3 separate regions of the Homo sapiens genome follow, and regions 1 and 3 are each linked to region 2. The links come from fine-mapping of genetic effects on gene expression. A gene starts in region 2. Each other region holds a variant in brackets. All regions are shown on one strand. Distances are from middle to middle. Region 1 overlaps IL4R (interleukin 4 receptor). Region 2 holds the start of NSMCE1 (NSE1 component of SMC5/6 complex). Region 3 overlaps NSMCE1 (NSE1 component of SMC5/6 complex).

The links. PIP is the estimated chance that this variant, and not a neighbour inherited with it, causes the effect. A credible set is the group of variants that fine-mapping cannot tell apart.
Region 1: its variant is the best candidate, but not a certain one, in a credible set for the expression of NSMCE1 in whole blood (TOPMed, PIP 0.89).
Region 3: its variant is the best candidate, but not a certain one, in a credible set for the expression of NSMCE1 in blood mononuclear cells (TOPMed, PIP 0.65).

Annotation. Positions count from the first base shown.
Region 1 is chr16:27,346,420-27,351,419 of GRCh38, reverse strand. IL4R (interleukin 4 receptor) reads right to left here. Exons shown (of 11, transcript NM_000418.4): 6 at 4,802-4,953. Among named protein-coding and RNA genes, the nearest start is that of IL4R, 35 kb to the right of the region's middle. The variant G/A (reference allele first, on the strand shown) is at 2,905.
Region 2 is chr16:27,265,466-27,272,022 of GRCh38, reverse strand. It overlaps NSMCE1 (NSE1 component of SMC5/6 complex), which reads left to right and starts at 3,251. Exons shown (of 8, transcript NM_145080.4): 1 at 3,251-3,317. It overlaps NSMCE1-DT (NSMCE1 divergent transcript), which reads right to left and starts at 3,818. Exons shown (of 5, transcript NR_037184.1): 1 at 3,779-3,818. RefSeq lists an enhancer at 1-369 and a silencer at 3,278-3,357.
Region 3 is chr16:27,234,782-27,241,338 of GRCh38, reverse strand. It overlaps NSMCE1 (NSE1 component of SMC5/6 complex), which reads left to right. Exons shown (of 8, transcript NM_145080.4): 3 at 6,040-6,161. Among named protein-coding and RNA genes, the nearest start is that of NSMCE1-DT, 30 kb to the left of the region's middle. RefSeq lists enhancers at 2,797-3,091, 3,495-3,614, 3,965-4,034, 4,955-5,479, 5,660-5,749. The variant T/C (reference allele first, on the strand shown) is at 3,180.

The DNA.
Region 1 (5,000 bases), 80 kb before region 2:
GTCTTCTCGAGTGTGGGCAGGACCTGCTACTTGTTTCTAACCCACAGAATATGGTAAAGGTGATGGGATATATAGAGGATTTCATGGATGTGATTATATTACAGAAGACTGTAATATCCTACTTGCTAGGCAAGTCTCTCTGCCTTGATGGCTTTGCAAAGGGCACATGGGAAGGAATTCAGGGTTAACTACAACCAACAGCCAGCACGAAACTGAGGCTCTCAGTTCAACAGCCTGCCAGGGACTGAATGTCACCAATATTGTATGAGCTTAGAAGTGACCCTTCCCCAATTGAGCCTCAGATGAAACTGCAGCCCCATCCCACACCTTGATTATAGCCTCACGAGACTCTAAAGCAGAGAACCTGGCTAAGCTATGTCCAGACTCCCAACCACAGAAACTATGAGATAATAAATGGGTGTTGTTTAAAGCTGTGAAGCTGGTAGTACCATTATTATGCAGCAATAGAAAACTAAGACAGCGATGACTGAACACACACATTTGCTTGTATAGACATAAGCTCTCTCTAAAGGATGCACATGCCCTCTGCCTGCCCTAACCTTGCCTCCCTTTCCCTTCTGGCAAGAGACAGACAGCAGTGGTCAGTCTCTGGGAAGAAAAACAGGAGGCTGGAGTCGGGAGAGAAACATGTTTCCATTCTAAGTCCTTTTGTACCATTTGTATTTTTATTTTGTGTAACTATTACTTTTACCCTCCAAAAAAGCTTTAAAAAGTGATACATGAACGCTATATTCATGACTGACCCTGATGGCAAGTGAGCAACCTGAGTTCTCATCCTGTCACCCCTCTCCCTGCGAGATCCAGGGCTATGCACCTCCCTCTCCTCTTCCTCAGCCCCCGGCAGTTTCTTCCTGGTTACTGGCAGCTCCATTTCTGCTTGTGGTTGGAAGCACATTTGGGGAAACCTGGTGCAAAGTGAGCCAAGGGGAGGTTTTTTCACAAGAAAGAAGCAAAGTTCCAAAAGATTGCTGGAGCAACTACAGAGAGTTCAGAGATTTTCCTATTACAGAGGGAGCTGAGGGTGGGGTGTGAGTTGTGGGGAGACTGGGGAAGGGAGAGAAAATTCTCACTCTCTTTTGTCTTTCTTTCTAAACATGAGCAAACAAGAAGCAACAGCTAGATGTAAGTTACCGAAGAAATCTTACACCCTGGAAGGGAGCTGGGAACTGGGAAATGTTTTACTAAGAAACAAAAGAGAAATCTGAGCTTCCAAAGAACTACTTGCGGTTTGTCTGTTTTTTAACAAGAAGGACAGGTGTTTGGGAGACCATCTCTGAGAGAAATGTCCATGGGAGGAAAAAGAGCACAGGCTTGGGAGTTCAAATACTGGGTGCAAATCTCAGATCTGGGCTGGATGCGGTGGCTCAAGCCTGTAATCCCAGCACCTTGGGAGGCTGAGCCAGGGGGATCACTTGAAGCCAGGAGATCCAGACCAGCCCGGACAACATGGCGAGACCCTGTCGCTACTAAAAATACAAAAAATTAGCCTGGCGTGGTGGCCTGTGCCTGTAGTCCCAGCTACCTGGGAGGCAGAGGTGGGAGAATCACCTGATCCCAGGAAGTCAAGGATGCAGTGAGCCATGATCACGCCCCTGCATTCCAGCCTGGGTGATAGAGTGAGACTCTGTCTCAACAACAACAACAACAACAAAAACTCAGCCCTGCCATTTCCAGCTGTGTGACCCTGAGCAATGTGCCTGGCACATAGTAGGCATATAAAATATGGAAACCATTATGAGGCAGGCATTCAGGGCTCTAACTAAACTTTTGGCTTTGTTTGGTGCTTTATCGCTACACATATTCCCACATCCCCCAACCCCATAATCCTCAAACATTCCATGAATTTTCACACCCATAAACCTTTTATCATGCAGTTCCCTCTGCCTGGTCTACCGTTCCCTTCTTTCCCCATCTAGAAAACTCCTATGCATCCTTCAATGCCCAAGCCAAAACTCCCCCTCCACTATGGAACCTTGCCTAGAAATTATCTAGGGGAATGAATGAGTAGCTCTAGCCCCAAAATTCTATAGTAAGTTCCTAATGTTTCTTTCTGGAATTTATCCCACTCAGTATGAGCCACAGTTGGTGCCTATAGTGCTGTGGCAGATGCAGGTGGACACCCGCCCAGCTTTTATGCCATCGGGTTTAGGTGCCCACTGCTTAGGACAGAACTCCACTGCCTGCAACTCCAGGGCCAACCCTCATTAGTCTAAGCCAATTGTGCCAATCCCATCACCTGGCCTATCATTCATCAGAGGGGAGCATGTGGCCAAGCTCTGGCCAATCACTAAATTCTTTATGTTCAGCTCTGTTCTTGGGAAGGGAGAGATGGGGTATCTCAGTTGCCACTGTTCCACCCACAAGAGAAGCTGGACTTCATTCTTCTGCCTCAGACCTGGTATCTGGAGGCCTGTGGCATCCCTGAGCACCAACATACCCCTAAGCCATAGCCCAGGCATGCTGACCAATCCAATCCCATGACTGGCATCTGGTGCCACGTCTTAAACCTGGCTGGCATTTTAGCCAGCACAGTCCTGCTTCCTCTTCCCCAGTTTCCCCTGGGGAAGCCACTCCTGCCTTATTTTCAGTTCATCTGGTTTGGATGGAGCTGAGCCCACCTGCAGCCCTAGAGGCAGGTATGTGACTCCTCCCTGGACAAGCAGGGCCCTCCACCAGCACCCTCTCTCCACCCACAGCCAGTGATTGGTTCAGAGGCTGGCACAGCATCGAAGCCAGGCCACTGAGCAGCAGCCTTAGGACTCTTATTAGAACCGTCAAGAAAAAAAACCCTTTTCCCACTGTGGCTTTGGGATGTAGGCCTGGAGCAACTAGTAGGCATATCTGCCACTACATGAGGGAAGAGCCTGCCTAAAAACGAAGCCA[G/A]TACAGAATAAAGCAGGGCGCAGAGCTGGACAGGTTCCTAGAAGCTGGATCCAGCCATGCCTGAAGGCAGATCTAGAAATATGAAAATATTAAATAACATATCTTTGGACTCTGAAGGTGGTACCTTTCTCTTCCCCCCAGCCCATCCTTGGGACTCTCTGTAGGTCTTGCACAGGCCTGGGGCATGAGAAGGAGATTTATTGACCAAACAAAACTTGCCCCACTCTCTAGCATCTGTGCACTCCTTCCCCCCATGCCCCCCGCTTTCTGAGCCTCTGCTGTGTGAGCCAACTGCCCCATTCCTGCTCTTTCCCCATACCTGGCCCAGTGCCAAAGGGGAAACCAGACCTGAGAGATATAAATCGACACCCCTGGCTTGGCCAGATTGAGAGGAAGCAGTGACAGACACCAGCATGGGAGCTTAAGGTGGCGGGTGCCTGCTCCCTGAGAGCCAACCAGGCCCAGCCTGGGCCCCTGGGATGCACAGAGCCGGCCCTCACAAACCTCAAGGAACAAATGACAGACCAGTGTGTGGGACAGCGGGCAGATGGGGATCTCTGTGGCCTGGGGCACTCAAGAGAAAGGGCACATGGCTTTTAGGACACATGTGGGCCAAACAGGGGAGCTCATCTGTATCACACACCTTGTACTGTCATAGCCCTGTGGGCGGGTGCTCTTGTCACTCCTGTGTTACAGATGAGGAAACTGAGGCACAAAGAGGTTATGGGATATGCCCAACATCACACAGCTGGCGAGTGGCACAGCAGGCATTGGATTGCAGCCCTGTGGGACCCCAGGTCCCATATGTCCAGAGATTGTCCCTCCAATGGGAATGTGAGGAAGGTGGATTCAGGGTGGGGAAACATGGGTGGCAGGAAATGACCTCCCTGCACACCAGCAGAAAAATAGGGGGACTCAGCCACCCACTGTGGACGGCCCCTGCCATTACTGACCTGATAGTTTCCTGTAAATCCTCTCGCCCTTTTTAAAGATGTCAATACATGTACTTAAGAAGGAACTCCACTGGCCAGGTGCGGTGGCTCACACCTGTAATCCCAGCACTTTGGGAGGCCAAGGCGAGTGGATCATCTGAGGTCAGGAGTTTGAGACCAGCCTGGCCAACGCAGTGAAACCCCATCTCTACTAAATATACAAAAATTAGCTGGGCACGGTGGCAGGTGCCTGTAGTCCCGGCTGCTCAGGAGGCTGAGGCAGGAGAATCGCTAGAACCCAGGAGGCGGAGGTTGCAGTGAGCCAAGATCACGCCACTGTGTTCCACCCTGGGTGACAGAGTGAGACTCTGTCTCAAAACAAACAACAACAAAAACTCCACCAACACTACTGTGAAGGGAATGTCAGGACCAGCTTCCATGGGGAACAACCAACAAACTGATCTTGTTTTCTTGGGAAAGTCTAAGCCTGGGGTGTGGCCTCTGCTCTCTTCATTAAGAGGAATTAGTAAACGAGTCAGCTGTATGGGGACTTCCTCCTTAACCCGTTGGCCTCAAAAGGGAACTGACACGGGTCACTGTCTCTTGAGTCAGTATTATTCTCTTCAATAATAGGGTTATTCAAGTGAGCTGTCAATGTGCCACCTACGATCACTTGTGTCCCCCAAACTGGGAAACACAGATGTGGCCCACAGCCCTACCTTTACAGAGGAGGAGCGGCATGCAGAGATAACTCCCCTTCTCTGATGTGAGGGGTGGGGGGCCAGGAAGCAAAGGGACTTGCCTAGTGCAGAGCCAGGTGAGAAGCCAGGTCTCTAGCTCCTGGGATTTGCTATCCAGCCCCAGGGCTTGCCTCCCAGGCTCCTGGCTCCAGGGACTGGGCCTCTGCTGGTCACCCACCCTGTTCCCCAGAGGTCACAGAAAAACGTCAAAGCATGCCCACTCACATCTGCCGGGTCGTTTTCACTCCAAATGTTGACTGCATAGGTGAGATGATTATACAGGTAATTGTCAGGGGGATACGGGTTGCTCCAGGTCAGCAGCAGAGTGTCGGAGACATTGGTGTGAACTGTCAGGTTTCCTGGGGCCCTGGGTTTCACTGCGGGAGAAGCGGCCTCTATGTGAGGATCTATGCAGTGACTCCCC
Region 2 (6,557 bases):
GACCAACCCCCTCAGTCTTGAATCTTTCTTTTCTTTCTACCTTTTTTTCTTGACGCTTTGATCTTGAAATGCTGGTGTTCCCAGCGTTTTCTATTCTTTTATCTCTCCACACACCAGGGAAGCACATGCTTCACAAAAGGGGACGGTCTCTCCCAAGTTCTGAACAAGTGCTGCCATGGGGGAAGGCTGGCCCACTGTCGTCAGACTTCCCCACTTTTCCAGAGCAGTCAGCTACAGTAGGGTTTTATGTGAAATGTCCCAAGTTTATTTATTTATTTTTGAGACAGAGTCTGGCTCTGTCACACAGGCTGGAGTGCAGTGATGCAATCTCAGCTCACTGCAACCTCTTCCTCCTTGGCTCAAGCTGTCCTCCCACCTCAGCCTCTTGAGTAGCTGGGACCACAGGTGTTCACCACCATGCCTGGCTAATTTTTGCGTGTGTGTGTGTGTGTGTGTGTGTGTGCGCGCGCGCGTATATATTTTTTTTGTAGAGATGGGGGCCTCACCATGTTGGCCATGGCTGATCTCAAACTTCTGAGCTCAAGCCATCCTCCCAGCTGGGCCTCCCAAAGTGTTGGAATTACAGGAATGAGCCATCATGCCCAGTCAAAGATTGAAAACCCCAACTTTAAATATTGATAATGAATAGAAAATTTCACAAAACCATGTAGGGCAAACAAAACACAAATATTACTCCTTAGGGCTTTATTTCCCCTCTTATTTGACTACCTATTAGGCAGTTTATAAAGAACTTATTAGTGGTGTTAGTTCACACTTATTGAGGGCTTACAATGTGCCAGAGACACTCTTCTAAGTAGTTTACGTTTACTCTTCCTTTAATCTTCAGAATAACATTATCAACAAAGTGTTATTATTAAACCTGCTTTATAGATGAGCAAACTGAAGCTGAAAACTTGAGCTCAGTCATCCCTTAGTATCTGTGAGGGATTGGTACCTTAGTCCCCATGGATACCAAAATTCTCGATGCTCAAGTCCCTTATGTAAAATCAAAACCACCTTTGTAAAAAGCATAACTGAGAAAATTATGATAGTGAAAGAGATCTGGCCTGACTCCATCTTGCTTCTAACTTCCAAGCTGTCCTTGATCATTCCTGGACATAGGTGGAATTAATGTTGGAAAGAACTTAGTTTATAGTTTAACTTTGAAACAAAGGCAATAATAGCCCTTTCCCAAAACAAATCCCCTCCTTGCCTAGGAACGGGTCTGCCTTTGTAGACTAACAAATTAGCTAAAAGATTAGAAATTATGGTTTAGGAGGTCACGCAAGCTGGAGGCTACAAGATTCTGACCCTCCCCAGATTGCTTCCGGGAGTAACATCACTGTTCTAAAACCTAAAATCAGTGCTTGAGATATTTTGCAGAACCCGTGTTCTAATGCACCAGCTGACGCCACCCAGCCCTGTAATCTGGCTAATCTGGTCCTATGGTCCTAACCCAGGATCTGACTCAGTGCAAGAGGACAGCTTTGACTCCTTTCCTCTCTGATCCAACCTATCAACACTCTCTAATCCCCAGCACCTCCAGCCACCAAATTATCCTTGAAAACCCTGAATTTCCAGGGAGACTGATTTGAGTAATAATAAAACTGTGGTCTCCTGTTCAGCCAGCTCTGTGTGAATTAAACTTTCTCTATTGCAATTCCCCTGTCTTGATAAATTGGTTCTGTCTAGGAAGCAGGCAAGGAGAACCATTGGGTGCTTACAAAATGCGAGAATACTTGCATTTAACCTACACAAATCCTCCAGTATATTGAAAATCATCTTTAAATTACTTACAATACTTAATACAATGTAAATGCTATATAAGTAATTGCTATGCTGTATTGCTTTCGGAATCTGTATTATTTTTATTGTTGAACTGTTATTTTTTACTGTTTTCCCCCACAAATATTAACCACCCACAGTTGCTTCAATCCGTAGATGGGGAACCTGTAAACATGGACAGCTGACTGTACTTTGTCCTATGTCTCAGAGACACTGAGTTTAAGGCCCAGGATTCCATGTTGACCATCCAGCTCCAAAGCTGAAGCTTTTAATCACCACACACCACTGCTTTCCCACTTAGCAGATGAAACTGAAGCCCAGAGAGGTTAAGAGGTTGTCCAAGATCACAGGGGTGGTGAGTGACCAAGCCTGGATTTGATCTATCCTCACAGAGACAGATATTTGCAGGTACTGCTGTTCTATATTAGTTACCTGTTTCCCTTGCTAGGCTGCATCCCTAGCTCTCAGACCAGGGATAGAATTCAAACGTTTGGAAAATTAACGCCTTGAAGACTCAAAGCAGTCCATTCACTTCCACGAGTAATTTCACTTGCTTTCTCACAATCCCTAGGTAAGATAACAGTTAACATATAATCAGCACTCCCATGTGACACTTTTCAATGGCCATGCTAAGCACCTGATATAGGTGTTATTATCTCTTGTAAATCTCACCAACACTATTTTGCAAGAACTAATATCCTCATTTAATGGAAGAGGAAACTGAGGCTCAGTGACTTGCCCAAGCGCCTGCCAACTAGTAAGTGGCAGAGCCAGGATTCTAGATCAGGCTCTATGACCACAGAGTCCACATTTTTCTTTTCTTTTTTTTTGAGCTCTGTCACCCAGGCTCGAGTGCTGTGGTACGATCTGGCTCACTGCAACCTCTGCCTCTCGGGTTCAAGTGATTCTCCTGCCTCAGCCTCCCGGGTAGCTGGGATTACAGGCACACACCACCACGCCCGGCTACTTTTTGTATTTTTAGTAGGGACGGGGGTTTCACCATGTTGGCCAAGCTGGTCTCGAACTCCTGACCTCAAGTGATCGGCCCGCCTTGGTCTCCCAAAGTGCTGGGATTACTTACAGGCGTGAGCCACCGCGACCGGACCAGAGTCCACATTTTTGACGTCGAGGCCACACTCAGTTCCACAGATGGGGAAACTGAGGCCCGGGGCAGGGCACTACATTGTGCCAGCGGAATGGTGGCCATTGAGGGAAGCCCAGGCTGCACGCCAATTCTTCCTCCTTGGTCAGGGAAGTCACTGAGGTGCAGGAGGCGGAGGGCGACAAGTGGAAGCCCCTTCCCATTATTAAGGATCGAGAGCGGGCGTAATTTGGGATCTAACCCACGAGGCGGAACCACCAGGGCAATGGCGCAAACGGAGAACCGGAAGTGCGTCACTCAACGGACGGGCGAATAAGCCGCAGGCCACCAATGGGAACGCCGCGTTCGCGTTCGCCCCGCCTCAAAGGAAGAAGAGTCCACCTTGCGACCGTATCCGCTAGCGCGGCCTGGGATGCGCTTGGGCTCCCTGGTGGGTAACGTGGGGAGCTAGGGGTTGGAGGGGAAAGAAGAGGGACTTCAAGGAAGGCGAGGGGAGGACGGAAGGTGGGGTGGGCGAGACAGGCAGTGGGGTCCGGCCCCGGGGTCGGTCCCCGTGGGCTGTGGAACTCGGGGACTGGGGTCTTGGGGTTTCCCCCTTCTTGATGGGGAAACTGAGGCCCAGACAGGGGCCGCAGAAAACAGCGGACTGGGATGTCCTCCCGCAACACACACGCAGACATCTAAAAATCTTACTATTTAGTGAAAAATATTTTTAATCGTAATTACGATTTAACAGGTAAAGATACTTTTCATTGTAACAGGTGAAAAAGCAAAATATAAAATTCGATTCAAACTGTGATTACATCTATGGAAAATACAGCCTTTGCCGACCACCCTCTTTGTCCCGCCGCCCTCCGTGCTCCCCTCTGTTTTGTGTACGGAGTTTCTTACTTTGTACAAGTCCGCAGCCGCTTATGTTACAGCCCCGAGGCCAGATGCGTTTAAAATCGAGGAGTTCTCGGAGTTTGGAAAGGTAAAGTCCCTATGTTCTATGTTAGGTTTCACCCTCAGAGGGGGCTGGAGCAGCGGCTTGTAATCAAATACACGACCCTTTCCACAGCTAAAGTTATGAAGATACGCATATATTACATTGACCTGGTCGCGGTGGCCCACGGCTATAATTCCAGCACTTTGGGAAGCTGAGGGGGGCGGATCACCTGAGGTTCGGAGTTCGAAACCAGCCTGGCTAATATGGTGAAACCCTGTCTCTACTAAAAATACAAAAAATTAGCCGGGCGTGGTGGTGCGTGCCTGTAATCCCAGCTACTCGGGAGGCTGAGACGGAAGGCTGAGGCAGGAGAATCGCTTGAACCCGGGAGGCGGAGGTTGCAGTGAATCAAGATCGTGCCACTTCACTCCAGCTTGGGCAACAAGAGCGAAACTCCGTCTCAAAAAAAAAAATGCATATATTTACACTGTTGGGATAAATAACCATAAATAGCCTCACCTTAAGTCAGGTCAAGTTTTCCAACTTAAACAAGTTTTGGTATTCAGACTTTTTTTTTTTTTTCCCCTGCATCCGATCATCCACTAGTATTCATACCTTTTTAGATTTGAGGGTTGCAGATGAGGGACCTGGATTGTAGTTGTTCTGTTCACTCACTTTTCTCACTCTCGCTGGATAGAGAGTGTCCTTGAAAACAGGAACTGTGCTGTTGTATGGTCACGTCTATCTCTGCCACCAACTCTTGTGTGTCACCTTGTGCCCTCTTAGTCTCAGTTTCCTCATCTGTAAGATGGGGTCAGTGACCCTTTGCTCATAAGGTTGTTCTGGTTTGGGTTAAATGAGGTCGGGCATGTGAAGCACTAGAATTGTGTTAGCACCCGCACGAATGGTATGACTGAGATTTACTTATTCCACAAACATTTCTATTTTAAAATTATTAAATTTAAATAAATTGATTTAATTAATGCATTTAATTAATTTAATAATAAATTTAAACGTATAGATGTATTTCTTAAAATGTGGGTGATAGGAATTTTAAAGATTTATATAATGCTTCAAAAGCCTTCGAAAAGGTTTTTTTAATTGGTTTATCTGTATATATGAACTCTTGAAACTTATGGCTAAAACACTAGGATTTATCTGCAAGGTTGCAGAGAGATAATTCTGCCTTAAATTGGCTAAAACAAAAACAAAACCAGCCAACCTATATTATACATGGGATTAAAACCAATTTTTCTCCCATTTTTTTTCTCCTTTTTTCTTTTGCTGCCCACATTATGCCTTATTTTATGAGCCCCAGTTTTCTGGGCTTAGTTAAAAAAAATTCAGTTCTAAACATTGAATTTAGGGAGTTTTTGTTCTTGAATAAAAAGGCATATACTTAGAAAAAAAATCTGTTTATCCGGGAAAATATATTGAAATCATGCTGCTGAGCCTCTATTTTCTTTGATGTTTTGGTTCTGTATTATTTTATCATAACTTTTTAGCATTTAAAAATTTACTGATGTACATTTAAAGCCAATAAACTGTTTTAATTAATTTTTTTAAAAAAAGTAATTTTTTTTTTCTTTTTGTGACAGAGTCTCGCCCTGTCGCCCAGGCTAGAGTGCAGTGACGCGATCTTGGCTCACTGCAACCTCCACCTCCTGGGTTCAAGCGATTCTCCTGCCTTAGCCTTCTGAGTAGCTGGGATTACAGGCGTGCACCACCACGCCTGGCTGATTTTTGTATAAAATAAAATTATTTAAGTAGGTAATACATGTCTATGCTAATCCCACCATTCTCCCTACAGTCTCTTCTCATAGAGACAAGGGACATAATATGCATAAACAAGCTTATGGTTGTCTTTCTTCCACTCCTACTTTTCCCACTCCTTTTCCACCAAATTATAGCATTCAATCCTATCCTGTTCTCATTCTCATTTACATTTATTTTGGCTGTTATTTAACATATTCACATTATTTTGTTGTTGTTGTTGTTGTTGAGAGTGGATCTTGCTATGTTGCCCAGGCTGGTCTTAAACTCCTGGCCTCAAGCAGTCCTCCCGCCTTGACCTCCCAAAGTATTGAGATTACAGGTGTGAATCACCATGCCCAGCCCATCACATTTAAAAACATTGTATGTAACATACCTATACAATTGTGTGGAAGTGTAAGTTTGAAGAACAAAAATAAAATGAACACTCATGTACCTGCCACCAAGTTAAGAAATAGACATTTTCAGATTGCCAGACCCTCCACTGAATCCTTTCTTCCCTCCTCAAAGATAACCACCGCCCTGAATATTGTGTTACTTGTTGCCTTGTTTTGCTTTGTAGTTTTTACCATGTATGTGTGTATTTCTAATGAATGAATGTATGCTTTTGCTGAGTTTTCGATTTTATGTAATAGGATCCTAAAATATATTTTGTGTGACTTGCTTGTTGCACTTAACATTATCTTTCTGAGAAGTATGCGTGTTGATGTGAGGAGCTCTACTTTGTCTTCATTGCTGATTTGAATTCTATGGGATGATTATATTGTTTTAATGTAGTTCTTCAGTTGGTAGGCATTTATACTGTTGCCAGACTTTTGTTATTACAAGGTGCTTCTGTAAAAACATATCTCCTAGGGCAAATGTGGAAGTTTCTGTAAGGTATATACCTAATAGTAGATTTCGGGGGATATGCAAATTTGCTAGTAATATCAACTGTTATCTGAAATGGTTACAATAATTTATACTCAG
Region 3 (6,557 bases), 31 kb after region 2:
AGTGGCTTGGGCCCTTGGAGTCTTATTTTTTGCTGTTATTTCCTCTGCCTAAAAATAACATTTTATGTTTTTATTGCCTAGTTTAGAACAAAACTATTTGTTGGTCAGAGGTCAGGGCAGTAGACTTCCCAATTTCCTGTTGCCCAAGTGCACAGTGAATCCTAGGTTCCAGTAGCCTCTGGGAAGCAGGGACCCTGATATAGCAAGAAGAGGCTCATTGGTAACATTACATTCCAATGTAACTTAATCATTTCTTTCATTTTTTGAGAGATGGCCTAGCTCTGTCACCCAGGCTAGAATGCAGTGATGCGATCATAGCTCATTGCAGTCTCCAACTCCTGGGCTCAAGCTATCCTCCTGCCTCAGCCTCCCAAGTAGCTGAGACTATAGCCACATGCCACCATGCCTGGCTGATTTTTAAATTTTTTTGTAGAGATGAGCTCTTGATCCATTGCTCAGGCTTGTCTTGAACTCCTGGCCTCAAATGATCCTCCTGCCTTGGCCTTCCAAAGTACTGTGATTACAGGTGTAAGCCACCACACCTGGCCTTAAAATTTAATTTTAAAAGAAAAGGAGAAACTGTATACAGAATTAGTCCAAAACAAAATCTCTCAAGATGACTTGAGCCAACCCTTCTCCTTAGGGGAGAAGTGTCCTGTTTTGTTCAGTGCTTGTCACTTGCCTGGAGGCCCGTTTTCAATTGCCACCACTGATGGGCATTTCCTGTTAAAGGAAGAGTGGCTCTGTTCGCTCCAGGGTCTTTGCCTTTCCTCAGCTGCTCCTGCTGCCCTGCATGCTGTCCCTGCACGCTGGACCTGGCCCAGTGCTCAGGGCTGGGCCAAGGGGATGATGGATGCTGGGGTGGGCTGGGTTGAGGGGATGATGGATGCTGGGCTGAGCTGGGTTGAGGGGATGATGGATGCTGGGCTGGTCTGAGCTGAGGGGATGATGGATGCTGGGCTGGGCCAGGCCGGGCTGATCCAATGCATCTCCTCTGTGAGTGCAGCTCCTCTTTGGGTACCACCTCTGGTGTCCTAATCAGGTGCCCAGATGCCTTCCATCCTTCCCTGTTGGCCCAGTCTCTCTTGGTGACTCTGAAGCACAGGGCAGGTGCAGGAGGGTATAGACGAGATGACGGTGGGGTCTGGTATAGAGGATGTCCTCAGGCTTGTTCTGTGGAGCCCATGGGGCTTAGTGCCTGGGAGCTTAGGATCTGGGGTTGGGCAAGCCCGGGCTCCATTTCCTTCCAAGTTACGGAAACTATGAGCAAGTTGTTAACCTCTCCAAGCCTCCTGTATATACAGATGATACTAGTGATTTCATCTTACGGAGTTACTGTTATTGTCATGATGAAATGAACCATGTGAATGCATAGTGCTGGCACATAATAAGGTAATCATAGCCACACATTTGCAGGCCCCTTGATTTTAGCCTAACATGAGCTACTTTACTATAGCCCTTAAGAAATCCAGACACACCCTGCCTCTTCCAAGTAGAGAGAACACAGATAGCACTGTGTTTAGAGGTTTAGAGGTTCAACTTGCTTGATTTAAACATGTTGCTGGTTGTCCTGGCTAGGGTATCTCTTTCCCTCTAGAGGAGACATCTGTGCTAGGGCCAGGGCCTCGTTCCTCTGTCCTCATAGCTGGGCCTCCCATATCACTGACTGGAGGTTGGTGGTGTGCAGAGAACCAGCCTCTGATCCAGCGCTACCTACAGAAAACCTGATGTTTTGATATTTACTGAAGGTTGTGTCTTTTTCTTCAGTTGGTTCTGGATTCTGAAAAGGAGTGGTGTTGTTAATTAACTCCTAAGTCTTCAAAGTGGTATTTCTAAGACTGAAAGTAGTTGTCTCAGAATCTCACCATACGGACTTTATTCCGCACTCTTTATCATGACCATGGGCTCGTAGAATATTGAGGTCAAAAGGATCCTCAGACATGCCTTTAGCCCAGTGTATCCCTACAGATTGGCAAACTGTAGCTTCTCCACCAGGGCTCCTGGATCAGGGGAGAGACCAGGGGCAGAGCTGTGGACATTAGCTGTCCTGAAGACCTGAGGCTGGGAAGCAGCGATCTGGTGCAACCTTAGCGCTTAGTGGACATCATAAGGATCTTGGGAGCAAGCAAGAGACCCCAGTTCTGGTCAACTTAGAAAGGAATGTGTCGGGGCTGGGCACGGTGGCTCACGCCTGTAATCCCAAAACTTGGGGAGACAGGTGGGCAGATCACTTGAGGTCAGGAGTTTGAGACCAGACCAGCCAACATAGTGAAATCCCATCTCTACTAAAAATACAAAAAATTAGCCAGGTGTGGTGGTGAAACACCTGTAGTCCCAGTGCCTGGGGAGGCTGAGGCAGGAGGATCGCTTGAACCTGGGAGGTGGAGGTTGCTGTGAGCTGAGACTGTGCCACTGCACTCCAGCCTGGGCAATGGAGTGACACTCCATCTCAAAAAAAAAAAAAAATGTGTCGGGATGCTATTGGGGGAGGGACACATAGGACTCATTGGTGGCCAGGTGCACAGTTGGGGATAGGCAGGAAGCATGGCATCACCTCATGGCCAGAGCAGCTGGCCCTCTGTAGCTTCTGGGCTGGAGCCACCTCCAAGCTTCCTTTTGTCCCTTGCTCAGATTGGGAGAGTGTCTGGCTGATAGGGGTTCTCTGTCTACTCCTGGCTGCCCTAATCTCTGGTCCCTTCAGCTTTCTGCTTTCTGGTTCCCTGAATATCATACCTGGAATTATTCTCTCACCAAAACCGCAAATGTAAGAGAAAGACAATTGTAAAAAAAAAAAAAGAAAAAAGGCGAAGGTCTCGTTAGGGAGGGACATGGCTGCTGGGCTGGCAGGTGTCACCAGCTGACTCCTGTCTTGGGGCGGCGGCTGGACACAGTAACTGGAGTGCCACGTGATGAGGAAGGAAGTGCTGCCATGGGAGGACAGAGCTGGGAAGTGCAGCTTATCTGGTTGGGGAAGGCCTGTACGGGAGGCTGCCAGAGGATCAGGAGGCTGGGGTCCAGCCAGGGGTGGTGGTAGAGAAGCGGGAGGGAAGAGGGTTCTGGACATGTGTGAGGCTGGAGGCGAGACTGTGTGTGGCTGTTAGAGATGAGAAGTGGGGGAGAGGCTCACGCAGGGCCCCACAGAGCGGGAGGGCAGGATGGGCTAGAGCCCACACCTCTGC[T/C]TCTGGCCCCATGCCACCACGCCACCTCTGTTGCTGCTGAAAGGAGTCAGTTGAAGGGTTTGGGGGTGCTGAGTGTAAGAGAAGTTTCTTCTCAGGTCACGATTAAGAGGAGCTGCAAGGGCGCGGGGCCTCCGTGAGAAACAGTTACAGGGTCAGCGATGGAGATCGTGGACATGACCCTGATGCAGGAAGCGTGTGGAAGGAAAGAGGGCGATAGCGGAGAGAACGGGAGCGCCCAAGCAGTGGCTGGTGTGTGCAGTGAGCGAGTACAGTAGGAGGAAGTGGTTGGTCAGATGAAAATACAGCAAAACATTCATGGTTTCTGAAAAATGAGGCTGGACGCCAAACCAGAGGTGGTGTGGAGAGGGGAAGGGCAGAGAGGGCTGCTGGCTCCCTCCCTGCAACGGGGTGTCTGGAAAGTCCAATAGATCAGAATGCTTCTCATCTGCCCACAGGGCACATTGTTCTCAGTGATACCCAGGAGGGGCCTCGTTAGTGGAAAATGTGAATTGTCACTTTCAGAGAGGTGGGACTTGCCCCAGTGTCACACTGGGTGGACAGGGTTCCTGTCACTCACTCCGCACTGAACGAGGCTTTTTGATGTCTGGGCCTCTTGCACCTGAGCTGCCCAGCGTTGGCTCCCCTTGGGGGTGGAAAAGTGTGTCTGGCCAAGTCACTGGCACAGGCAGGTACGGAACAGCTCGGCTCCCACGCCAGCAAAGAGCTGCCTTGCATGCTGTGGAAGAGGAAGACAGCACCGGGGGCAGAAGAGAACATTTCCTGGAAAAACAGGCCATCCAAGGTGGCTGCCGCAGTGGAGGGAGAGGAGTTTTCAGAAAGGAGGGGCCCGTGAGCAGGGGCATGGAGGCAGGAAGTCAGGCCATGCCTCCCTCCTGATGCCTGCTCTCCAGCCGCCGAGGCCAGATGTCATTGTCATATGTTACGATCTCACCACATCCATGTTCCACCCACTTACTATGACTACTTTTTAATTTAAACTGCCTTTTAAAAACTTAACTGAAAGGGAAGATTAGCTCCTCGCTGAGCATGGCACATTAGTGTCACTGCCCTGGGCTTTGTTCTCAGCTTTTCTGGGCCCCACAGTCTGATCCTCTGACAGAGCTCATTGGCCTGGGTTTTCCTTGACTCTTTCACACGGCCACATCCTCCATTGTCACCAGCATGATCTTCTGTTGTTTTTTTTTTTAACTTTATGAATCTTGAGTTGTACGGGTAGCTTAGAAATGCCTCTGTCTAATAAGAAATCAAACACAGACATACAGCACGAGTGCCCTGTGATGACCCTTCGTTTAGTCCCTTCCTGGCGATGGCCTTGGTCGTCAGTCCAGTGGGTAACCTGCTGGGCCTTTTCCTGTGGGACTGTTTCATTGGTTCTGTTTTTGTTTCACACATGAATGTATCATATTGTCCATTTTTTCTTGCAGTTTTTTTTCCAGAATGATTTTCTAAGGCATGAATCTTTTGAAATTATTTATTTTAATACATAAAAACAGTAGTGAAAACAATAATACATACTCTTGCTTTAAAAAGTTTCACAGCACAAGCTGGGCGTGGTGGCTCACGCCTATAATCCCAGCACTTTGGGAAGCTGAGGTGGGCGGAACACTTGAGGTCAGGAGATCGAGACCAGCCTGGCCAACATGGTAAAACCCCATCTCTACTAAAAATACAAAAATTAGCTGGGTGTGGTGGTGCATGCCTGTAATCTCAACTCCTCGGGAGGCTAAGGCAGGAGAACTGCTTGAACCCGGGAGGTGGAGGTTGCAGTGAGCCAAGACTGTGCTACTGCACTCCAGCCAGGGCGAGAGCAAGACTCTGTCTCAAAAAAAAAAAAAAAAAAAAAAAAGTTTCACAGCATAAAAGGGACACAACGCTGGCCATGTCCTTCCACTGCTTCCAGTGCTCAGAGGCTTCCTGGTGCCACAGGAGAAAGGCCCTGCTGTCCCCGGCCACGGGCTCCTGTCCTCACCGCAGCCTCTCTGTCCTCCTCAGCTGAGCCCCCGGCAATAGTGTGGGTGCCCCCTCCTCAGACTGATGGACCTGGATGGTGGCCCCTGGGCTGTGAGCATCCTGCTGGCAGGGCCAGGGGAGGTGGGCGACAGAGAAGTCAAAGCCCCGGCCTTGTGGTGCAACTCTGGGCGAGTCAGTTCACCTCTCTGCGTCTCAGCCTCTTCCCCTGTGCCCAGAGAGCTGCTGGAGGGTGGATTCATGACGACAAAAGGTGCCCAGGACAGGGCCTCTCCATGCTGAGGGCTCGCTGCAAGCCACCCTTCTCACCCCGTTTGTTGTTATTCTTACTGTTCCAGCCCAGGACCCAGCACAAGCCTGGCATGTAAGTGAGGATAACCCGACATTGAATAAAAAGAGAAAGGAATAAAGCTCCACCTAAGATGTGTGGGGACATACAGGGACAGAGGCCTCTCGCGGGGCACTGGGGATGCGATAGAAGGGCTGAGATGGGATAGGATGTTTGTGCGGCGGGAGCTCACGCAGGCTCTGAGCACATCATTGAGTAATGCGCTGAAGGTGCTGATTGGGACTCTCATCAGGAGGCAGCGAGCAAAGACAGGAAGCCCGCGGCAGCCTCCGTGGTTGCAGATAGCATCTCCCTGGCCCTCCTGCCTCACAACGCCCTCCATCTGTTGTCTGTTTGTCTTCCAAGTACTCCAGGAAGAAAGAAGCCACGTGGCATTGGCGTTCACCCAAGAGGCTGCAGCCTCCACCCATGTCTGGGGTTGCTGTCCCCTGCGTTGAGATGGGATGGAATGATTCAAGCAAGCTACATTTTTTTGATGAGGCCCCCTGGTCACCCCCCTTTTTTTGGTCTGTTTATTTCCAGGCAATGCCACCGTAGATAAGTTGGAGGACTTCATCAACAACATTAACAGTGTCTTGGAGTCCTTGTATATTGAGATAAAGAGAGGAGTCACGGAAGATGATGGGAGACCCATTTATGCGTTGGTGAGTGCCCGGCAGAGCCCTCTAGTGGCATTTTTGAGGAGCTGGAACAGGGCCCAGGCAGCCTGTGTTTGCTTTGGTTTGATTTCTCTTTTGGACAGTTCTTTGCAAAGAAGTCACTCCAAATGTATAGAATATTAGGAATAAAGGGAGAAAATGGTTTTTTATTTAGAATAAGACATAGAAGCTATGAAAAGAAACTCTGTAGGAGTGTCAAGGATTGCAGGCCATGTGGGTGGGGCCTTCAGTGGTTTTCAGATTTACTCTCACAGGTAGGGATTTGGGCCTCATCCCTCCTGCCGCCGACTCCCCGTTCACCCACGTGATGTGTTCAGGATGCCACAGCCAGAATGGCAGAGCCAGGAGTGAAATACAGCCAGGGTGAAATACAGGAGTGGG